Linked DNA regions of Homo sapiens: all the other regions are reported to be linked to region 2. The links are microRNA targets in miRTarBase. Many come from high-throughput screens and were not tested one by one. Region 2 holds a microRNA gene; each other region holds the end of a gene's coding sequence.
Evidence for each region. The annotated mature microRNA hsa-miR-1250-3p reads ACAUUUUCCAGCCCAUUCA and lies in region 2 at 1,110-1,128, opposite strand. An mRNA with a match to its seed (bases 2 to 7 or 8) in the 3' UTR can be bound and repressed. Matches are read on the target gene's strand: a 7mer-m8 pairs with bases 2 to 8, a 7mer-A1 pairs with bases 2 to 7 and ends in A, and an 8mer does both.

Region 1: miRTarBase lists SLC37A3 as a target of hsa-miR-1250-3p. Seed matches in the 3' UTR shown: 7mer-m8 at 755-761.
Region 3: miRTarBase lists PPM1A as a target of hsa-miR-1250-3p. The part of its 3' UTR that is shown has no 7-base or 8-base seed match.
Region 4: miRTarBase lists ARSD as a target of hsa-miR-1250-3p. Seed matches in the 3' UTR shown: 8mer at 1,381-1,388, 7mer-A1 at 668-674 and 7mer-m8 at 487-493.
Region 5: the mRNA of PFKM is a reported target of hsa-miR-1250-3p. The part of its 3' UTR that is shown has no 7-base or 8-base seed match.
Region 6: the mRNA of ZNF229 is a reported target of hsa-miR-1250-3p. Seed matches in the 3' UTR shown: 7mer-A1 at 1,222-1,228.

The regions. Positions count from the first base shown.
Region 1 is chr7:140,332,433-140,335,814 of GRCh38, reverse strand. SLC37A3 (solute carrier family 37 member 3) reads left to right here. Exons shown (of 15, transcript NM_207113.3): 15 at 311-2,063. The coding sequence ends at 403. Among named protein-coding and RNA genes, the nearest start is that of SLC37A3, 64 kb to the left of the region's middle.
Region 2 is chr17:81,132,119-81,135,500 of GRCh38, forward strand. MIR1250 (microRNA 1250) reads right to left here and starts at 1,190; the gene lies at 1,078-1,190. AATK (apoptosis associated tyrosine kinase) reads right to left here. Exons shown (of 14, transcript NM_001080395.3): 2 at 2,250-2,383. It overlaps LOC124904079 (a long non-coding RNA gene), which reads left to right. Exons shown (of 4, transcript XR_007065937.1): 2 at 2,278-3,382.
Region 3 is chr14:60,292,098-60,295,479 of GRCh38, reverse strand. PPM1A (protein phosphatase, Mg2+/Mn2+ dependent 1A) reads right to left here. Exons shown (of 6, transcript NM_021003.5): 6 at 1-3,027. The coding sequence ends at 2,998. Among named protein-coding and RNA genes, the nearest start is that of LINC02322, 29 kb to the left of the region's middle.
Region 4 is chrX:2,904,256-2,907,590 of GRCh38, forward strand. ARSD (arylsulfatase D) reads right to left here. Exons shown (of 10, transcript NM_001669.4): 10 at 1-3,335. The coding sequence ends at 3,016. ARSD-AS1 (ARSD antisense RNA 1) reads left to right here and starts at 649. Exons shown (of 2, transcript NR_144459.1): 1 at 649-950; 2 at 1,313-1,867.
Region 5 is chr12:48,145,379-48,148,378 of GRCh38, forward strand. It overlaps PFKM (phosphofructokinase, muscle), which reads left to right. Exons shown (of 23, transcript NM_000289.6): 23 at 186-1,026. The coding sequence ends at 330. ASB8 (ankyrin repeat and SOCS box containing 8) reads right to left here. Exons shown (of 4, transcript NM_024095.5): 4 at 2,411-3,000. Among named protein-coding and RNA genes, the nearest start is that of ASB8, 11 kb to the right of the region's middle.
Region 6 is chr19:44,425,355-44,428,736 of GRCh38, reverse strand. ZNF229 (zinc finger protein 229) reads left to right here. Exons shown (of 6, transcript NM_014518.4): 6 at 1-2,483. The coding sequence ends at 434. Among named protein-coding and RNA genes, the nearest start is that of ZNF229, 21 kb to the left of the region's middle.

The sequences.
Region 1 (3,382 bases), not on the chromosome of region 2:
AAAGAAAACTTTTATCTATTATAAGGATCACTGTTGTTCATCTGAGCCTCTGGTCTCAGTTCTCTGCTCCGCCTATGGCAAATTATTTGTATGTATTGTTCTTTTTTTGGGAACTGAAATGTGATGTTGAGTGTTTTGTAATATTAGCCATAATTTTCAAAATCATTTTCTAATTCATTGAAGATTAAACATTATCTTTGTATGAAGTCAAAATGAATGTAATTGTCCAAATCCATTATTATGTTCAAAACATGACACTCTAACAGAAGTAAACTGTTGCTGCATATTTAATACTATTTTCTCTTTACAGACAAGTTGTACAATTGTGTTTATCTCGCCATTAATAGTGAGGGAAATATTCTCTCTCGTGCTAAGGAGACAGGCTCACATATTGAGGGAGTGACCGGTGCCCGCGAGACAGAAAGAACAATGTCAGCCACATCAGGACCGCTGGGGCTTCGAGTCTGCCCTAATTTGGGTTTGTCTAGGAGCTCCAGCCTGATCTTGGATTGTCAGGCGTCTCTCAACACTGCCAGCCACCTGAGATGCTGACCAGCAGTGAAGGCTGCACTAGTTTTCTACACTACAGGAATTACTGTTGATGATTTTTGCTGTTGTTTCATGAATGTGCCGAGTGACTTCTGACTCTGCCAGCATCTTTGACCTCTGACTCTGCCCGCGTCTTTGTTTGGCCTATTGAGGTTTAGCGTTTTAACCTTAACTGTTGTTTTGGACTTGAACTTTCTCTAGCCTTGAAAATGGAGTGAACAGGAGGCAAAGCCACGCGTGGTTTGTGTTGGTGGTATGTTCCACAAATGGAAGAGATCATTGCATTTTGCTTTGGTAATGAGTTTACAGAGAGTGGGTCATCTTTGAAGCATCAAATCCTGATCAAATGCTCAAGCTGGACCGAGCTGCAAGCCTGCCTTGGACAAAGAATCCCTCTGTTCACTGTGGTGGGAAAGATCACACTACATGCCTGTTGATTGGCTCAGTCACTCTGTGTCTGATCTAAACGTCATTCAGCCCTAGAAGCATGAATTGCTTCAAATTATTGTCAACTTGTTCTCTTCCATTTTCATTCAAATTAACTTTGACTCCTGGAAGTATTGAGTCTTCCTTTCAAGGACCATAAGGTACATCAGTTATCTTGAACATTCTGACGTGTAAAGGACCATAAGGTACATCATTTATCTTGAACATTCCGACGTGTAACTCACAGCCGAAGCACTCCATCCCAGATTTGTTGTCTGGGAACTTAGGATCCTCTAGGAAGCTAATCTGCTTAGTCTATTTTTAGAGGATTGATCTCTGGCACAAGCAGCTTCCTGGAGTTACCTCAGCAGAAGACTAGAATTAGAGAAAAGGGAAAGACCTTTTCTTCTAGTAAGTGTCAAGTACAGATGCTCTTTGACTTATGATGGGGTTATGTCCCAGTAAACCCATTGGAAGTCAAATGCATTTAATACCCCTGACTGGACACCACAGCTTAGCCTCGTCCACCCTAAATGTACTCAGAACACTTAGAATTGCCCACAGTTGGGCAGAATCATCTAACACAAACTCTATTTTATAATCGAGTGTTGAATATATCATGTAATTTATTGAATATTGTACATTATGTTGAAATTGCAACCATTTCACACCATTGTAAAGTCCAAAAATCAGAAGCTGAGGACTGTCTGTACATGACATTGAATCACATGAATGGATTACTAGGGCCTGAGGGGTGTCCGTTCTTTAGAAAAATGTAGAGTATATATATCTTCAGGGCTGTGAATTCCATACTAGTTATCAATATTTTAAGATCATTCTGTATATACATATTTTAAATTATGCAAGCAAACTAGGAGGAGAATGTGCAATTTTGAGGGATACCTAATTTGCATTCGGTTAGGGGATATTTTTCAACCTCTTGCTTTATACTCTGATATGGGGTGTGTTTATGAACTTGTTAATGTTATTTAATCATGCAGATTTCCAATCAGTGTATTGCTCATTTACTGACAAAAAGGGAAAATACGAAACACAGAAAGGGAAAATAAACTGACTTTTATAATGAATCTCCATTTCGTTACTTAAATCTATATACCATGAGCACTGAGATTTAGAATGTGATCGGTGCCCTCATGTTTCCTGATACTGAGCGCTCCCGGGTGAGCCCACGCTGACCCACAGCATTGCTGGGTCACGTGCTCCCTCACCTGAGGTGCTGGGGTGGCTTCATTTCCATCTGTTCTGTGAAAACTTGCCCTTTCCCACTGTGGAAGACTGTGCTCGGTTTGGATGAATTGCCCGGTTGTAAGTTAAGGGCCGTCTGTTTTCTCATTGAACCTCTTGGCTGGCGTTTGGCTCAGAGTTTCCTTTCCGGCTGCACTGTGGGTGTGGTCTCATCTTTGTGTCCCCACGCCAGCCAATGTTTTCTTACCCAGTTGAACCTTAGATCGGTGACTGTTCCCCTGACCTTTCTATGGCCCCCGAGCTGTACTGAAATGAAACCATTTAAAAAAATTTTTTTGAGACAAAAGTCTCGCTCTGTCACCCACACTGGAGTACAGTGGCACGATCATGGCTCACTGCACCCTTGACCTCCTGAAGTCAAAAGCGATCCTCCCGCCTCAGCTCCCAAGGAGCTGGGACTAGCCTCCCAAGTAGATGGACCGTGCGCCACCATGCCTGGCTAATTATTTTTAGTCTTTTTATTTTCTGTAGAGACGAAGTCTCACTGTTACCCAGGCTGGTCTCAAACTCCTGGGCTGAAGCGATCCTCCCACCTTGGCCTCCCCAAGTACTGGGATAACAGGCATGAGCCACTGGGCCTGCGTAAAATGAAATTACAAATCAATGCTCAGCACTGGACAACATGAAATAAGGATATATTCCCTTATTCTAGTTCTGCCAGTCTGCACAGGATTTAACTTTTTTTTTTTTTTTTTTTTTGAGATGGAGTCTCACTCTTGCCCAGGCTGGAGTGCACTGGTGCAATCTTGGCTCACTGCAACCTCCACCTCCCGGGTTCAAGCGATTCTCCTGCCTCAGCCTCCCAAGTAGCTGGGACTACTACGGGCACACGCCACCACGCCCAGCTAATTTTTGTATTTTTAGTAGAGATGGGGCTTCGCCATGTTGACCAGTCTGGTCTGTAACTCCTCAAGTGATCCACCTGCCTTGGTCTCCCAAATTGCTGGGATTACAGATGTGAGCCACCGTGCCCAGCCAGGATTTAACTTTGATGAACATCTAAGAGTTCACTTTATTTTCTTCTTAATATCTTCTCCCTTGAGAAGGGAAGAGAAAACCATAGTGAAAGCTAATTTGAAAATGCATCCTTTCCTCACAGCCAGATCGTCGATGCTCGCTAGGTTGAAATAAAATGCTGCGG
Region 2 (3,382 bases):
AAAGTCCTGGGCCCAGCTGAAAGCAATTGCTCCAGGCACACAATGACAGCCCCAATCCCTGAGCACTTGGTACAGCCTTTCTGTCCTTCCTCACAACCCCCAGTGCCCTGGTGGGGAAGCTGAGGCTCAGAGGAGTCAAGGGACTTCCAGCTGGATGCTGGCCAGCACCCGGGCTGGTGAGTCCGAGGACAGGCAGGTGCAGTGGGAGGGGAGGCCTGGGCTCCTCAAGTACGACGTGTGACCCTGGGGACGCCTCCCTTCCCTGGGCTGCAAAGAGAGGGGCAGGTGGCTCTGTCGGTATTCCCGCAGGCCAGGCCCAGCCTGCCCTTTCGGAGCACACAGCCACTCAGGGATGGGGGACGCAGGTGCTGCGTGGGCAACTTCCCCTCCCCGGGACCCAGAAGACCACCCCAGAAGCCCCCTCTTGGGCCCTCCAATCCCAGCCCCGGCCTGGCCCCACCCATCTGGGCTTTGTAGAGGGGCCCAGGACACAGATGCTGTCTCTCCCTGGGGTCGGGCCCGGGCTCCAGGCATTACCTGCTGCCCGGGGGCCAGCCGGGTCCTGCCGATACAGCGTGCAATCAGGTAGCACAGGGTCAGCATTGGGGGCCTGCCCAGCCCCTTCCCTCAGCACAGCTCCCCACCAGGGAGCCCAGCGCAGGTCCCCAAATCCCAGGAGGGAGCCCAGTGTGGAGGCAGGACTTCCCAGGGGCACACTGGTGCTGGAATGTTCCGGGCACCATGTTCCCAAGGAGGTGAGGAGGGCGCAGGAGGAGGAGCTATGGCCAGCCCTTGTTTGGGGCCTTGTTCTTACAGTGCCCCAAGGAGGGGCCACTTATACAATAGCCCCACTCGTCCCACCCAGGCCCCACCTCCACTCCTGCTCCCGCCAAGACCTTGAGGCTCTGGCCTCGGGATCCCCAGGAAGGCGCCTGCGCGGCCTGGCCTGGCCCCTGGTGCCAGCGGGTCAGGGGTACATCCCAGAGCAGGGTGGGGGCTCTGGGCAGGAGTGCAGACCCCACAGCCTGGGGCCACAGCTTTGCCCCCCAGGCACGCAGCTCCTCACTGGTTGATGGGGCCTGTGGCCACTTCAGAGGGCTCTGGAAGGTTGAATGGGCTGGAAAATGTGGCCTTTAGAAAAGGCAAAAAGGCCACATCCAGCACCGTCACCTGCCAGGCCAGCGGGACAGGTGGGCAGAGCCAGCTCCTTGGCCCATTCTGCGTCATGACATACCAGGGGCAGGGAGGACTCTGGGACTGTCTCCCAAATGGGGGTGGCGCCAGCTGAGTCATGGGTCACTTAGTAGGAAGGCACCCTGAGATACAGACAGGGTGCTGTGCGCGCTGCAGAATGCCTCCTCCCACCCTCCTCCCTCCCTGACTTCTCCTGGCGTAGGAATCTGACCTCTGGCCCAGGGGTGGGGCTGACCCCCGTGGGCGTGTGAACCACCAGAGGTCCAGGCCAGGGTGTCATTTGCTCATCAGCAGGAATGGGACCCATGGAGACTCTGGGAGGGGGAGGCGATGCTGGCCGGGGTTCCTTCTGCCTGGCCCTCCCTGCTGCTCAGAGTTACAGCTGGAGGTGGGCTGGGGGTTTGCAGGGGGAGGAGCAGTGCTTGGCACCTGTCCTTGGCCAGGGGCCTTGGCCTCCAGAGGGGCAGCCTAGTGAGGCCAGGCCTCACCCTTGGCGGGGCTCCCTAACCAGCAGGCTGGGCTCTAGCATCACACATCGTCCCCTCCAGAAGGCAGAAGATACCCCGCGCAAGGTGACTCCAACTGGCAAGAAGGTCCCTGTGCCGGGAAGCTTGTCTGGGCAGCCCGGACTCCCCTTTGCAGATTGAATTCGGAGGGACGTGAGAGCCCCTTGCAGAGGCAGCTCCTCCACCAGGAGTCGGGCCTCTAGGGAGGCAAGCCCCCTCCCACACCAGCTCCAGAGCCCCCGACGCCCCCTGCAAGGCTGTCCTCAGCCTCCGTGAGTGCTCGGGCCCAACCCCAGGCTGGAGTGGGAGCGTCAGACCACGCCCCCCACAGAGGGCCTCAAAGTCGAGGAAGCTGGGGCAGGTCCCTGAGGAGGAGCTATGGAGTCCCTGGGCCAGGGTCCACGTGGTCCCCAGGTGGCCCCACAGCAACTACGGCCACCCAGCAGCCACCTTGATGGCCCCAGGAAGGAGGGAAGCTCAGGGTCAAGTGGACGCTACAGGCCTTGCCTGCGGGATCCCACGACAGCTCCCGCGGCCCCCAGGCCTCACCTTGAACCCGATACCGCCCTTCTTACAGCACAGGCAGGCCAGCATGAGGACGATGACGGCGAAGAGCCCGGAGAAAGACACAGCCACCACGGCGAGGGAGGATGGCCAGGACAGCTCGCTGAGCGGGGCGCCGTCTGCGGGAGAGCAGTGTGGTGAGAGTGGCCATGGCTGAGGGCCGGCCAGGCCCCTGCCCCTGCTCTGGGCTCCACAGCCCCACCTGGACTTGCTGCATTCCAGGCTGGGCCTCAGCACCCTGACCTCTCACCCCAGACCCCACACCTCACAGTGTGGCGAGGAGGTGGCCAGAGCCTGCAGTCCTGCAGCCAGCCACTGGACACCACCCTGGCTTCGCCAGGGGGACATAGGGTTGGCAGAGTGACCAGAGCCTGCCCAGTTCCCAATTCTGGGGTTCAGATACCCCTGAGAGGTCAGGGTCTCAGGGGCTACAGGGGGACCCCCATCTCCCTCCCAGATCCCAGTCACCCCACCTTGCCCCTCTGGGGCTGGGAAGGGAACATGGACTCTGTCAAACACGGGAGACCATGTTGCTGGCTGCTATCTGCTGGCCACACACCAGGCTCTGGACAGCGGGGGCTCAAGGCCCTTCCAGCCTCTGAGGTGCGGGGACCTCACTGTCCCTGAGAAGGTGGTGCTGCCTCTGCCAGGCAGCAGGGCTCCCGTGTGCCACCTGCTGCCTCGAATCCGTCCCCTTGCCAAACCCACTGCCAGGCCCCTCTGGTGCTGCTTCTGTCCTGGGAACCATGGGGAAACCCCGTTCTGCAGCTGCTGGTCCATGGAGCCCCTCATCCCAGAGGGGAACTGACAGTACAGCATCCCTCCCAACTTCGGAGTATTGAGCTGAGCCCGGCTTCCAAATCAGGACACCTGAGCTGAGCCAGGCTTTGAGGAAGCTCGGTCCATCTGCTGCCCACAGGATGGCATGGTGGGGGCCAGCCTTGGTGTCCCCTGGGCAGGGGAGGGCACACTGACCCGCTGGCTCTATCCCCTGGGCCTGCCCCGTCCCACCGCACCCAGCTCCAATCCATGCCCTTCCCTAGGAGCTTTCTGTCCGGCTGCCCTCCACTTGGCCCTGGAGATTTTCCGGCCACCCCCAGTGCCTTTTGCCACTGAGC
Region 3 (3,382 bases), not on the chromosome of region 2:
ATTAGTATAAAAAATTAAGTGGCTAGAGCAGTTGCATTAAGTACTCTAGAAGCAAGTTAATGCACTATAAAGTAAAAATATGTTTGAGATACTTCCAAAGCTGAATTAAGTTATCACTTTGATTTTTTAAAGTATATGCTAATATTGAGAACTGCTTCTATTGTCTATAAAAGTATATTCCCAAGAAAGTGGAAATTAGGAGATTCTACCCTGTTAATGAAAGAAAGATCAGTGAAATTTTTTAATGTTAGGGTAAAACAGAGCCTGCTATACAAAATGTTATTTCCTATTCATAGCAGCAAATAAGACATTTAAATGATAAAAGTATATTTTGAGTACTATATTATCATCACATAAGAACTTTTTCCCTCCAAAGAACAGAACACATCAAACATTTTTGAGGCATTGCCCTGAGATGCTAATTAGCACAAAAAAAGGGGATGGGGGTGAAGAATTTAAGTGGTACAAGAATGAAGTGCACAATAGAGGTGCAAAAGTGCCTTTAAAAAGTATGGTTGGTTTCCCCCCACTATTACCTCCAGGAATCAGGAACACACACAGTCTGCTGTTATAATGTATACTTCCTTCCTGTATTTTTATAGTAAAAAAATTATTAGTATGGCAGTGCTGACTCATGTGGAAAAGATTTAGTCTTCTCACATCACTCAAATACGGTTCTCTCTCGTGTCCAAGCCTAATTTCAATACTAATAATTTTGACAGGAATATTTTAATTTTCTCTTGTTTAAAGACTCAAAAAAAAAAGGCTCTAAATATGCTGTTATGGTTTGAAATACAGCTTTCCATCACATACTCTACTTGTGACTTAAGTTTTGCATCTCAAAAGATTACACAGTCCAGTTCAAAGTTTTGCAATTTCTGGAACTAAAGTTGTCAGTCTACTTAAAATATTAAGGAACTGGTTTGTTATAATAGGGATTTAGCTTTCAGTACCAGTATGTCTGGTAATTAGTCTATACTAGAAGCACTGGTATTCATTAAATGCACATTTAGATGCTTGCAAAGCCATAACTTAGAACATTATCATACTTCGCACTCTACCACAGATTTAGACATTAAGTATTTATTGTAAGTATGGAATTGGTTCTGTAATTTCAACTGATATGAATTTCTAAATATAAATAGTACTTCAGTTTTTCCTCATTCATGCTGGAATAAGATATAAATTAAATACAATTAAGTTACATTTAATCACCTCACAAAATAAGAGGGATAATGAAAAGATTTTGCTGGTATTTAACTACTTAAATCTGAGACATTTCACATTACTTTCCCCACTACTCCCCTAACTTTACATTAATTTTAAGGCTATATATACAAATATGTATATTTCCAAGTTAGGGAAAAAACAAATATAACAAAATGGACTATACTGGTTTTTATACACAAAATTTTGATTTTGTATTCAATGTTGTATTTTAGTCTTACATTTCAACAGTTTTCTAGTGGGAATCTGCCTACTGAATGATTACATGGTGATAAATACAATATTCAACCTAAAGAGACAAAAATACAGAAGGGCACGGAACAGTAATCTTTTCAATGCGACAGATTTTAAAACTTACTTTCACATGCTTAATCAGAGGAATTTAAGCCTAAATTAAATTAGGTTATTTTTATATCTACAATTCCTTAAGCTTTGAAAGTTATTTGTAAAGGCCAACAGCTAAATATTATCAACATGCTATATTTCAAATCACAAATACATCTTAACCACTTGGATTCTAAAGACATGGGCCAATTAAAAATCACAGGCAAACACACACTCACAAACACACACACACACACCCCTACCATAGAGTGTTAGATTGTCAAACTTTGACAATAAATATTTTAATTAAACAGTAGGCAAATCCAAGCTGATACACATCTTAATGAAAAATAAGCAGCCTGAAAGAAACCTATTTAAAAAATAGATTAAGGTACAACCAAGAATTAAATCTTTTAGTCTTTCTAATGGAAGGAAAGTTTCATCTATGCCTTGAGTGACAGTGTTGTCCAATTAAAAGAGACTAACATCTTTCCCTATGAGAAACGTCTCATTACAACGGCACAGTGTTTTAAAAGGCCAGGGTAAAAGAGGAATTACACATACATGATTAAGTTTCTTGTTTGTTAAATCAAGCTTTATTGATAAAATGGAATTCAGAATATCTTACTAGGAACAGCAGCAGGCCCAGCCAATCATGATAGCAAAAATGTGGCAGTTTCCTACTATATGTAGGAAGCTGCTGCTTATCAATTAGTAATTAAATGTAAGGACTTGAAAAGAGGTGCAAAGAAACAAGGCATTTAGCCCCAAGATTGAGATTCTTATGAATACACTGTATTATTACCTGCAATACTCATGGAAACAACGAAGGAACATCCTGAAAGACAGTTAAATGAAGGGACTGGCTTTATCAACAATGCCAACTCCCCTACCAAGAACATTTAAGATAGTTTTCAATAACTCCTTGGATGTTCAGCTTTGTAAGATTTTGAGGTTATTTTCCATAATCATCTGCACATTTGAGCGTGTAGCTGACATGGCTGCTGCTCTCCCTGTTCCAACCCCAAGTCCAAACACAACATGACTTGAAAGGGCTATATATCTGTTGCATCACACAATAAGCCAAACATTTCTTGTAACTTTGATAGTGATTTAAAGCAGTTCATAATTAAATATGAGCATTTTGTACAAGGACAATTACACTTTACAAAAAAACAAAATCATACAACAAAAATTGCTGGAGTCTGATTTACAACACGAATTATGGTTTGAAATCACGCTTACATAAGTCTCAAATTTACAAAAAAAAAAAAAAAAATCAGTTCTGGGCTAGCTGTTGTACTGCTGAAGTTCTCTGATGTAATCATTCTCACCCATGTCATATCCCCTTCCTTAAAGTTGAGGATGGATGTTAAAAGTTTCAACAAAGTTGAGCTGTACTCTCCTTTGGAGGTGAAGGTAAACTCCATGGCTAGATGAGCAGTTTTACCACATATCATCTGTTGATGTAGAGTCCTTTGTAAAAGGAAGCAAAATAAGGAACAACGTTAAAATTTAGCGGTGCCAAAATACACCATACTTTCTGGATAATGGAGAAAGATAATGTTCTGTAAAGATGACTTTTAGAATATAAATGTTTTTTAAAGTATATAAGTATATATGTGTACATATGAAATAGCAATGTTTAATCTGTTCAAAGAATTGTTAATCCTTTGTTTTGTTTTGGAAAATATTTGAAATGCGGTTTTATGATGAGGCTGTCCAAATGTATTACTCAATCAATAAATCTACTAAAAAGAATTTTTTAATGAAATCCAATACAGTTTTAGAATACCACTTTTATAAACCTTTAATGCATCAGAAAAGATTA
Region 4 (3,335 bases), not on the chromosome of region 2:
TGCCAGGTATCCCAAGTCTAGGGCAGGGAGGGTAGTATCGGCATCACTTTCACTGCATTCTGTTGGTCAACGCAAGTCAGAGGCTCAGCCCAGATCCAAGGGCAGGGAAGAGGCTCCATCGTGTAGTTGGGCTCACTTGGAAGGTAATGGGAGGAGTTGGTGGCTGCTTTAAGACACATACCACATCTAGATTTCAACCTCCAGAAAAGTCCAAAGATGCACTCACAGGAGCCCGTTAGTCAACTGAAGCTGGTTCATGGCTCTCTTCTTCAGGTGGAGACTAACCAACTCCCTGACCTCCTTCGGTTAAGTGCTCCTTCCTTTTTCCTGCTGCCTGGAATGTCTATGTGCCATCTGGAGCTATGGCAGCCTTCTTGCAACCATGAGGCAAACTCTATGTGCAAGAGCAGGTAGCTAGAAAGAGCCTGCCAGCCCTGGGCTTATATCCTGCTTCCCAGGGAGCTTAAAGATAGCAAAACCCACAGCCATTTTCATCAAATGCCAGGAAATTCTTAGGCTGGGATTGTTGGGATTGTTTGAATGGTTGAGCGTGAAAGACTTGTTATAATGGGCTTGTTGAATACGGTGAAAGATGAGATGGCTTTTAGCTGCCTCCACTCCCCGTGTCCCATGCTCCATAGATGTTTCTTTTTTTTTTTTTTTTTAATCATTTTTTGGTTATGCCAGGTGTCTCCTGTGTGTCCCTCCAGATCCCTCTCCAGCCCTAGAAACCTGAGCTCTATAAATGTTGCCTCTCTCCACTCATCTTCTCTTTGGCTTCAGGTTGAGTTCAGCCAACAGATGCCCCTGTAGGATTTGGACACAGGGAGCCAGGGGAGAGGGGCATCAGCTGCCTGGTTAGCAGGGCTGTGATGATTCTTCTACCTATGACTCTCAGTGCTGTTGCCTCTTCCTCTGGATCTTGGAAGCTTCCATGCTGAGGTCTGAAGGTGGCTCCCTGCCTCCCACTGATGTCCTTAGAATCCCATCCTCACCTAATACCTGGTATTGAACACTGCCTTTCTTAGATGTCATTTAGGCTCTCGTTTCAATTCCCAGTATGCTTCCTGCAAAGACCTCGATAGATGGACTGAGGGGAATAGTGCAAGGTCCTCCCATCCCCAGTATTGGGATCTAGGGGCAGGGGGTCCCAGCTGTGCAGTAGGTTAGGACTACACTTCCATCATCAAAGCCACAGAGGGAAGAGGTGAGGATGAAACACACTAGAATTGACTTAGAAAACACACTGGCCAAATCTTAGCTATTTGAGGAATGTAGGGAGAAAAGCCACCTTCTCTCTCTATGTCTGAAGGTTCCCATGGCTGTCTCTTTGCCCAAGGGGCAAACTTTCCATCAGGGCATCTTCTGTGCCTCTGAGGATCATTTTCCAATTATAGGCAATGGTAGTACGTGTTTCAGTGCAGAATGAGATAGAGTTGTTTAATTTGACAATAAAGCGATGCGTCAAAAACCTCAGTCAACACAGTAAGTGTTTTCTTGTTTTCCTGCTGACCAACCTAATTCTGGTTTCATACAGGGCAGCCAGGTGCCCACCTAAAAGACTGCACTTCTCAACTTCCAGTTGTTTCTATGGATAATGGTTGGAAGCAGAAATTGGGTTGGGGCTTCCAGATAATCCCCCCTCACAGGGACTGCTTCAAGAGAAAGGGATGCCCTTTGGTTCTTTCTCCTTTCCACTGCCTGGAATGTGATGTCTGACACTGTGGCAGCCATACTGGCATAATGAGGCCAACTCTCTGCCATGCTAAGAGTGGCAGAGCTGGGAATTGAAAAGAGCCTGCTAGCCTTGGGTTGCTTCCCCTTGATCGGCTCATTACTTGGAAGAGAACACACCCTTCTCTTATTATTTTCTTTAAGGCATTTTTTTTTTTTTTTTTTTAAGGCAGGGTCTTACTCTGTCTCCCAGCCCGGAGTGCAGTAGTGCAATCTTAGCTCATTGCAGTTTTGACCTCCCAGGCTCAAATAATCCTCCCGCCTCAGCCTCCTAAGTAGCTGAGACTACAGCTGTGCGCCACGACATCTAGCTAATTATTTGTTTTTTGTAGAGATGAGGTCTCACTGTGTTGCTCAGGCTGGGTAGGTGTCTAACTCCTAGGCTCAAGTGATCCTCCCACCTTAGCCTCCCAAAGTGCTGGGATTACAGGTGTGAGTCACCGTGCCTGGCTTTGTTTAAGGCATTCTTTTTCCGCAGCATCTGTTACCAGCAGCCTGAAGCCATTTCTATAACAATATCAGGAAGACACATGGACAGAGACCCTAATGTATGAAAAATGCATCAATTATTTGAGATTAATGAGTCCTCATAAACAGAGACTGAGAGGCTCTAACTTTCCTCCGCTATGTGAGAGTAGGAACAGACACTCCTCCCTGTCCTTTTGTAAGGCTGTTATGTCATCTAGGTGATGAAATTGCAACAATGCTTTAAGACGGAGGGGTGAAAACATCGGGCATTGGCACAATGACGAACCCTGAGATTTAGAAGAGGAAGAGGAGGCATCAGTGGGTGCCTACTGGGACAGTCTTATTTCACAAATCAGGAAAGGGAAACCCTACATGGGCGCAGTGGCTCGTGCCTGTAATCCCAGCACTTTGGGAGGCTGAGGCAGGTGGATGACTTGAGGTCAGGAGTGCGAGACCAGCCTGGGCAACATGGTGAAACCCTGTCTCTACTAAAACTACAAAAATTAGCTAGGCATGGTGGCAGGTGCCTGGTGCCTGTAATCCTGGGTACTCAGGAGGCTGAGGCAGGAAAATCGCTTGAACCCGGGAGGCGGAGGTTGCAGTGAGCAGAGATCGTGCCATTGCATTCCAGCCTGAGGGACAGAGCGACACTCTGTCTCAAAAAAGAAAGAAAGAAAGAAAGAAAGTGGGGACCCACTCTCAGTCCAGGGCATGTTCCTTGCAAAAAGGGAAGCTGAAGATAGAACCAAGCTTGGAGAATTTTGTTTGCAACGCAGTCAGGCTCTCCTGGATCCTCTCTCACAGTCCTGGCATTCAGGGGGTGCCATCCCCATCCTCGTGGCATGAACAGAACGGGAAATGTCCGCAGCACGGCTGCAGCCACGGCTTCCACAGGATGTTGCTCATGGAAAACTGCTGGGGCACAGGACTCAGGGTCTGCCGATGCTCCGACACCGCGGCACCTACCCTTGCTATCACGGCGTGGTACAGGGGCTCGGAGTCGGGGGTCAGGGGCCGTGCCTCGGAGGGGTCCCTGGAGAGGTCAAAGAGCAAAGGGGGTCTGTGATGGGTCACGCCCTCCCCGGAGCATGGGCAGACGCCTCGGCCGTAGCAGGCCCCCGCTCCCTCGGGGT
Region 5 (3,000 bases), not on the chromosome of region 2:
ACCTGTTCACTGTCTTTAATTCTTTTTTTTTTTTAAGGAGTAACACCTGTATTCTTACCCATTTCAGATGTGATGCACATGTCCTAAATCTAACCTCTTCTGTCTAACTTCTTCCTATAAACCTTTGGTAGAAGTTGATTGGGGTGCTAAAAGATTATATCATCATCTACCTCATTCCTCTGTAGGCATCGAATCCCCAAGGAACAGTGGTGGCTGAAACTGAGGCCCATCCTCAAAATCCTAGCCAAGTACGAGATTGACTTGGACACTTCAGACCATGCCCACCTGGAGCACATCACCCGGAAGCGGTCCGGGGAAGCTGCCGTCTAAACCTCTCTGGAGTGAGGGGAATAGATTACCTGATCATGGTCAGCTCACACCCTAATAAGTCCACATCTTCTCAGTGTTTTAGCTGTTTTTTTCATTAGGTTTCCTTTTATTCTGTACCTTGCAGCCATGACCAGTTCTGGCCAGGAGCTGGAGGAGCAGGCAGTGGGTGGGAGCTCCTTTTAGGTAGAATTTAACATGACTTCTGCCCCAGCTTTATCTGTCACACAAGGCTGGGCACCTCTAGTGCTACTGCTAGATATCACTTACTCAGTTAGAATTTTCCTAAAAATAAGCTTTATTTATTTCTTTGTGATAACAAAGAGTCTTGGTTCCTCTACTACTTTTACTACAGTGACAAATTGTAACTACACTAATAAATGCCAACTGGTCACTGTGCTTTTGCTTCTCCTGTTATCATCTTCCTAAGTGGAATGTAATACTGTCAGCCCCATGTATCAGACACTTGTCTGATGAAGCAGTAAAGACGTTAAGGGTATCACAGGGGGTGGAGGAAGGGATTATCTCTAGTACACTACTTGCTGGCTGTCTGAAAAATTGTCACTGCCAAACTCTAAAAACAGTTCTAAATAGTGACTGAGAAGGTTTGTTGCTGGAGTCAGGGAATAAGGCAGCCAAATACTCTTTGCACAGTTCTTTAGTGGGAAGAGAAATTAACAATAAATATCAAGCACTGTGGTAGGCATTTCATCATTGAATCCTCATAGTAGCTTTTGGAGGGCAATGGTGACAGCCTGACTTCAGAAAGGAGGACACTGGAGCTCAAGGTGATTGATTACATAATGTCTCCTTCAATATTATTCAAGTAGAACTCAAACTCAGTTCTGACTTCAAACCTCATCCTCATTCCCCATTCCTGCTTCCTTATCATGCCATATCAAATCCCCAGAGCCATAAGGCCTATGAAAACAAAGTGAAAGGGAAGGTTCAGGCATTCATTCAGAACATTTTAAATGCTAATTGCCATTGATTTATAGGTTCTCTGTCTCTTTCCTGTCTTTAATCTTAGAGCTGTTTCCTCAAGAAAATGAAGAGGGAAGGATGGCTCAGGGAAAGTTAATCAGAGGGAAAATGTCACTCTGTAAAGAGTAAAAAATTTAGGATGATGATACGATCTGGGAAAAAAAGGCATAGTGAAGACCACTTAAAAACAAACAAAAAAAACCTATGAAGGTGCATGCTATTTCCCCAGAGCTAAAAAGATAAGTGAAATTGTGTTTGAACTCTTAAGTGGAGGTGAAGCAGAATTTATTAGCCACCAACCACATAAGTGATTATGAAGTAACTGAGAAACAGGTAACATTTTTTCCCACATGGACAAAACTTTCTCTTTCTAGAATATTAAGTATCTATGATGAGAAATGAAGTAGCATCTCAAGCAGTTTATAAATCTACCAGAATATTAGAATCACCTGGGACCTTTGAACGTACTCATGCCCAGGTCTACTTTATTCATTTATTTTTTTGTAGAGATGGGGACTTCAACTCCTGGTCTCAAATGATCCTCCCACCTCGGCCTCCTAAAGTGTGAGGATTACAGGCGTGAGCCACTGTGGCCAGCCCTACTAGGTCTGCTTTGGACCAATTAAATCAATCTCTGGGGGTGGAGCCTGGGCTTTAGTATTTTTAAAAATTTTCCTAGGTGGTTCTAATTAATAACTAGGATTGAGAACCACTGACTAACACAGTGGAATCTCATTCCTGGCTATATTTGAAGCACTGAAGCCCCCAGTCCTACCCCAGAAAATTCCAAAGAATTGGTATGAGGTGAAATCTTGGCACCAGTGTTTTTAAAAAGCTTCCTTAGTGATTTTATGTGCAGCTGGAGTTGAGAACATAAAAGCAGTAATTCCAAATTTGGGGTGGGAGAAGGTATAAAGGAAGGGGAAGCTCTTCAGATACTCTGCCCAAGCCCTCCTGTTCACTCCAGCAATGCCCAGAATCACTGCTGCTAATGGGAGAAAGGTTGGGATGGAAAGTTACATAGAACAGCCAGGCAGTAAACGAAGAACTTTTTCTAAGGGGGGTTGGAGAAAAGTAGGAAAAGTAGAAATTGCCAAACTTGCTTTTAGAACTATTTATTCTTTTTTTTTAAGTGATGTTTTTTAAACACCAGCATCAATAGGACAGAAGAAGACATCTGTTTTCCAATTAGCTGTGTCAGTAGATTCCATTCATTGTTTGTAGTTCCCAATCAGCTTTAAAAAAAAAAGTTTTTCAAATTTGCATACAAGTCATCTAAAATCAATAACAACTTGATCTAATTTAGAAAAATGAAAGAGTATCGTTCACTAAAGCAGATCTCTTTTGGGTAGATGGACCATCACAAAAGGAGCTCTTACATGCTTTTCCCACTCCCATCCCAAGTCCACCCTCCCACCAATTGTATTGTATAAATCAATAAAAAGCAAAGGTTCCAGAACAACTGAAAGAAAAATAATTCCAAACTAAGCAGAGTGAACTTTCCATTGGGAATGAAGACCCATGGGAAAAGGCAGCCCAGCCCATAACTCCTCCCTGCTGGAACACACACCGTAGGTGTAGGAACTGCCTGGGAATCCCATTAGAACACACTGTTTCTCAGGAAGAGAAAAAGCTGCATTACAAGAAAAGTTCTCAGGACTTTAGGAGTTCTTAGGACTGTTATTTCAG
Region 6 (3,382 bases), not on the chromosome of region 2:
AGCCCTATACGTGTGATCAGTGTGGCAAGGGATTCAGTTATGGCTCTAATCTTCGCACCCACCAGAGGTTGCACACAGGAGAGAAACCCTACACTTGTTGTGAATGTGGGAAGGGTTTCAGATATGGCTCAGGTCTCCTTAGTCATAAGAGAGTGCACACTGGCGAGAAGCCATACAGATGCCACGTGTGTGGGAAGGGCTATAGTCAGAGCTCACATCTTCAAGGTCATCAGAGGGTCCACACTGGTGAGAAACCCTATAAATGTGAGGAGTGTGGGAAGGGCTTTGGCCGCAACTCCTGTCTTCATGTTCATCAGAGAGTCCACACTGGAGAGAAGCCCTATACGTGTGGTGTGTGTGGGAAAGGCTTCAGTTATACCTCAGGTCTGCGGAACCACCAAAGAGTGCATTTAGGCGAGAACCCTTATAAGTAGATGTACATAGAGGATTCCATCTGGGACTCAGAGCTTTCTATCCATCTGAGAGCCAACACAGGAGAAAAACCATAGGAAAGTGACATGTAGGAGGGCTATAGGAGAAACTGATGATTTTACATTTTCTAGTCTGCATAGGAAGGGAACACCTGGATGTGTGATAAATAGGTTAGCACTTCAGTTACAAACTTCAGTCTTTAAGAGTCTGTTGTGCAGCGGAGTAGGCTTTAAAGAAACAGTGCAGCAGTGGTTTCAGTAATAATCCTCACTTCCATCAGAATCTGCCTGGGAGGGAGCTTTTACAATGTACAAGTGGTGAGAATGTTTCCAAGGTGCTAATTATGGACATAGATTCTTTGTGTGGGTTGATAGCTACCAATGGGACAGTGTAGAAACAAGTTTCCACCTTTCTAAAACCAGTTTGGTACATATCTTTTTAAAGATCGCTTTATAAAAACAAAAAGATAACATTAACATTTATTGAAACAAGTCACTCTGAGAAGACCAGGAACAAAGTTCTCTTGGCAGATCTGGGTGATGTGTGTGTCTCACATTTTTATCATGTTTTTATGACTGTTTTATCTTGCAGGTAAGCTTTACAGCTTTCAGAGGAGTTGTAGTACACTACAGAAATATGTCTTCTTTCCAGGTTCAAAAAGCAAAATCTGATTGGCATTGCATTGAATTATTAATTAAATAAATTTATTAATTGGCATTGCATTGAATTTATAGGTTAATTTTGAAAGAATGTGGCGTCTTTGAAATGCTGATTTTTTTTCACTTTAAAAAAATGACTTTTTTTTTACCACTGATAGTATTTCATATGGTCCCTCAGTAATATTTCTTAGAGATGGTTAAAAATAGGTTCTGAGTCATCTTAAGCATATTTCTAGGAATTTGTTTTATTGCTGTCATGAATATAATGGTTTTGCTCCAGTTCATTTCATAGTTTAACATATCAAATATTAGGTATCTTAAAAATCACAAATGCTATTTCACCCTGCAGGTTAGCAGTATTAAAATAGAATCATCAAATCCCCCATCAGTGGGGGCGGGGGGGGGGGTTGTAGAAACAGTCTGATATGGTTTGGCTCTTGTCCCCACCCAAATCTCATCTCAATTTTAATCCCCACGTGTCAGAGGAGGGCCTTGGTGGGAGATGATTGGATCACGAGGGCAGATTTCTCCCTTGCTGTTCTCATGATAGTGAGTTCTCATGAGAGCTGATGGTTTTAAGGTGTAGCCCTTCCTCGCTGTCTCTCTCCTGTCCCCTTGTGAAGAAGGTCCTTATTTCTCTTTTGCGTTCTGCCATGACTAAGTTTTCGGAGGCCTCCCCAGCCATGTGGAACTGTGTGTGAGTTAAACCTCTTTCCTTTGCAAATTACCTAGTCTCAGGTAGTTCTTTATAGCAGTGCAAAAATGGACGTAATAAGTCTTATGTACTTATTGGTGAGAGAGAAAATCCGTGCATTGTTTTCAAAAGAATTCATTAACGTATCAATTCAATTTCTATAACCTTTGAAGTGGCAGTAAATATGTAGTAATTGATACTTGGGAGATAGTTGCCCACTTGGGCAAAAACGCATGCAGAAGGTGGAGTTTTTAAATTTAAAACATTTTTAAAATAGCAAATGTTAATATTCCAGTTTCCATTGGTAGGAAATTTTTTAGATAAGTTCAGGCATATGTATGCAATGGAAAGCCACTAGAAATCTTCAGGCACACAGATAATGACAATGCAGGTTGCTCATGAAGTATTTAGTGAACCAGGAGAGTTTTAGAACAACAATTATAGCATGACCCCATTTTGTTAGTATGTTTTTCTGTGTGTATGTTTAGAGCAACAGAGAAAAAAAGATGTGGGAGAGGACATATAACTACTTATCTCTAGTGGTGGGATTCTGAATGTATAATACATATGTTGTACTTTTATGTATTTTACTTTGTAACAAAGTATCTTTCAGTTTTATAATAACAGTAGAGCTATTTTTTATAAATTAGCCTGATGGAACAATCCCTTATGATTAAAGATTCATGTTGTAACCTCTATAACTTTTTTGGCTTTTTCTCCTGTTCACCCAACTCCCTGTACCAAAGATAAGGCATACAAATGAGTGATGTAAATATTCTCAGAGGCTACATCATTTTTGCTGGCTGGTAGGAGATGAGGCAGTCTAGATAATTAGGAGCCACGGTGTTTCCATTTTTCAGTCCTGCCTTCTTGAACTAGTGAGCCCACAAGCCTGGTTTTGTAGAGGGCAGCACACCATCATGTGTTCCTCCAGGATAAGCTCTCTGTCTTGGTGACTCAGGAGACCTGGGTCTGCTCTGGTCTGAGCCTTCTGCTGCCTGGAGCTGCCAAAGAGAGAAGACATGTCAAGAGGTGGGGAACAGGCACTTTATATATAGATAACCAAAGTATTTACCGTGGGAAATAAGGTTTCAGAAGGGGGCAAGGGGTAGGGATGAAAAGTAATTTATGGAACTGCAGCAGAGTCACTTGGGATGTAGGGTTTTATGGCCAACAGAACAAATGCAGACACCCCTCAGACCTCAAAGTTTGTGGCTGAAAAGTTTAACTCATTCTGTATTCCCAGAGGTTGTCAGCAGACTCCTCAAATTCTGGGCAGTATCTCCCCCAGTGTTGTGGAGGCAGCTGTCAAATGTTGGCAGGGGCTGCAGTCATCTGAATGCTGGACTGGGGCCTACAAGGTCTGCTCCCAAGATCACTTCAGGCAGGAGCCTTCAGTTCCTTGCTGGCTGTTAATAGAGGTCTCAGTTTCTCACCTTGTGGGCCTCCCAGGGCTAAAGGCCTTCATCTTGTAGCAACTGACATCCCCCCGAGTAAGTAATCAGAAAGGAGAGAGCAAGCCAGAAGCCAGGGTGCCTTTTATGACCCAGTCTCTTAAGTCACCATCACTTCTGCTATATTCATGAGTACTAAGTCT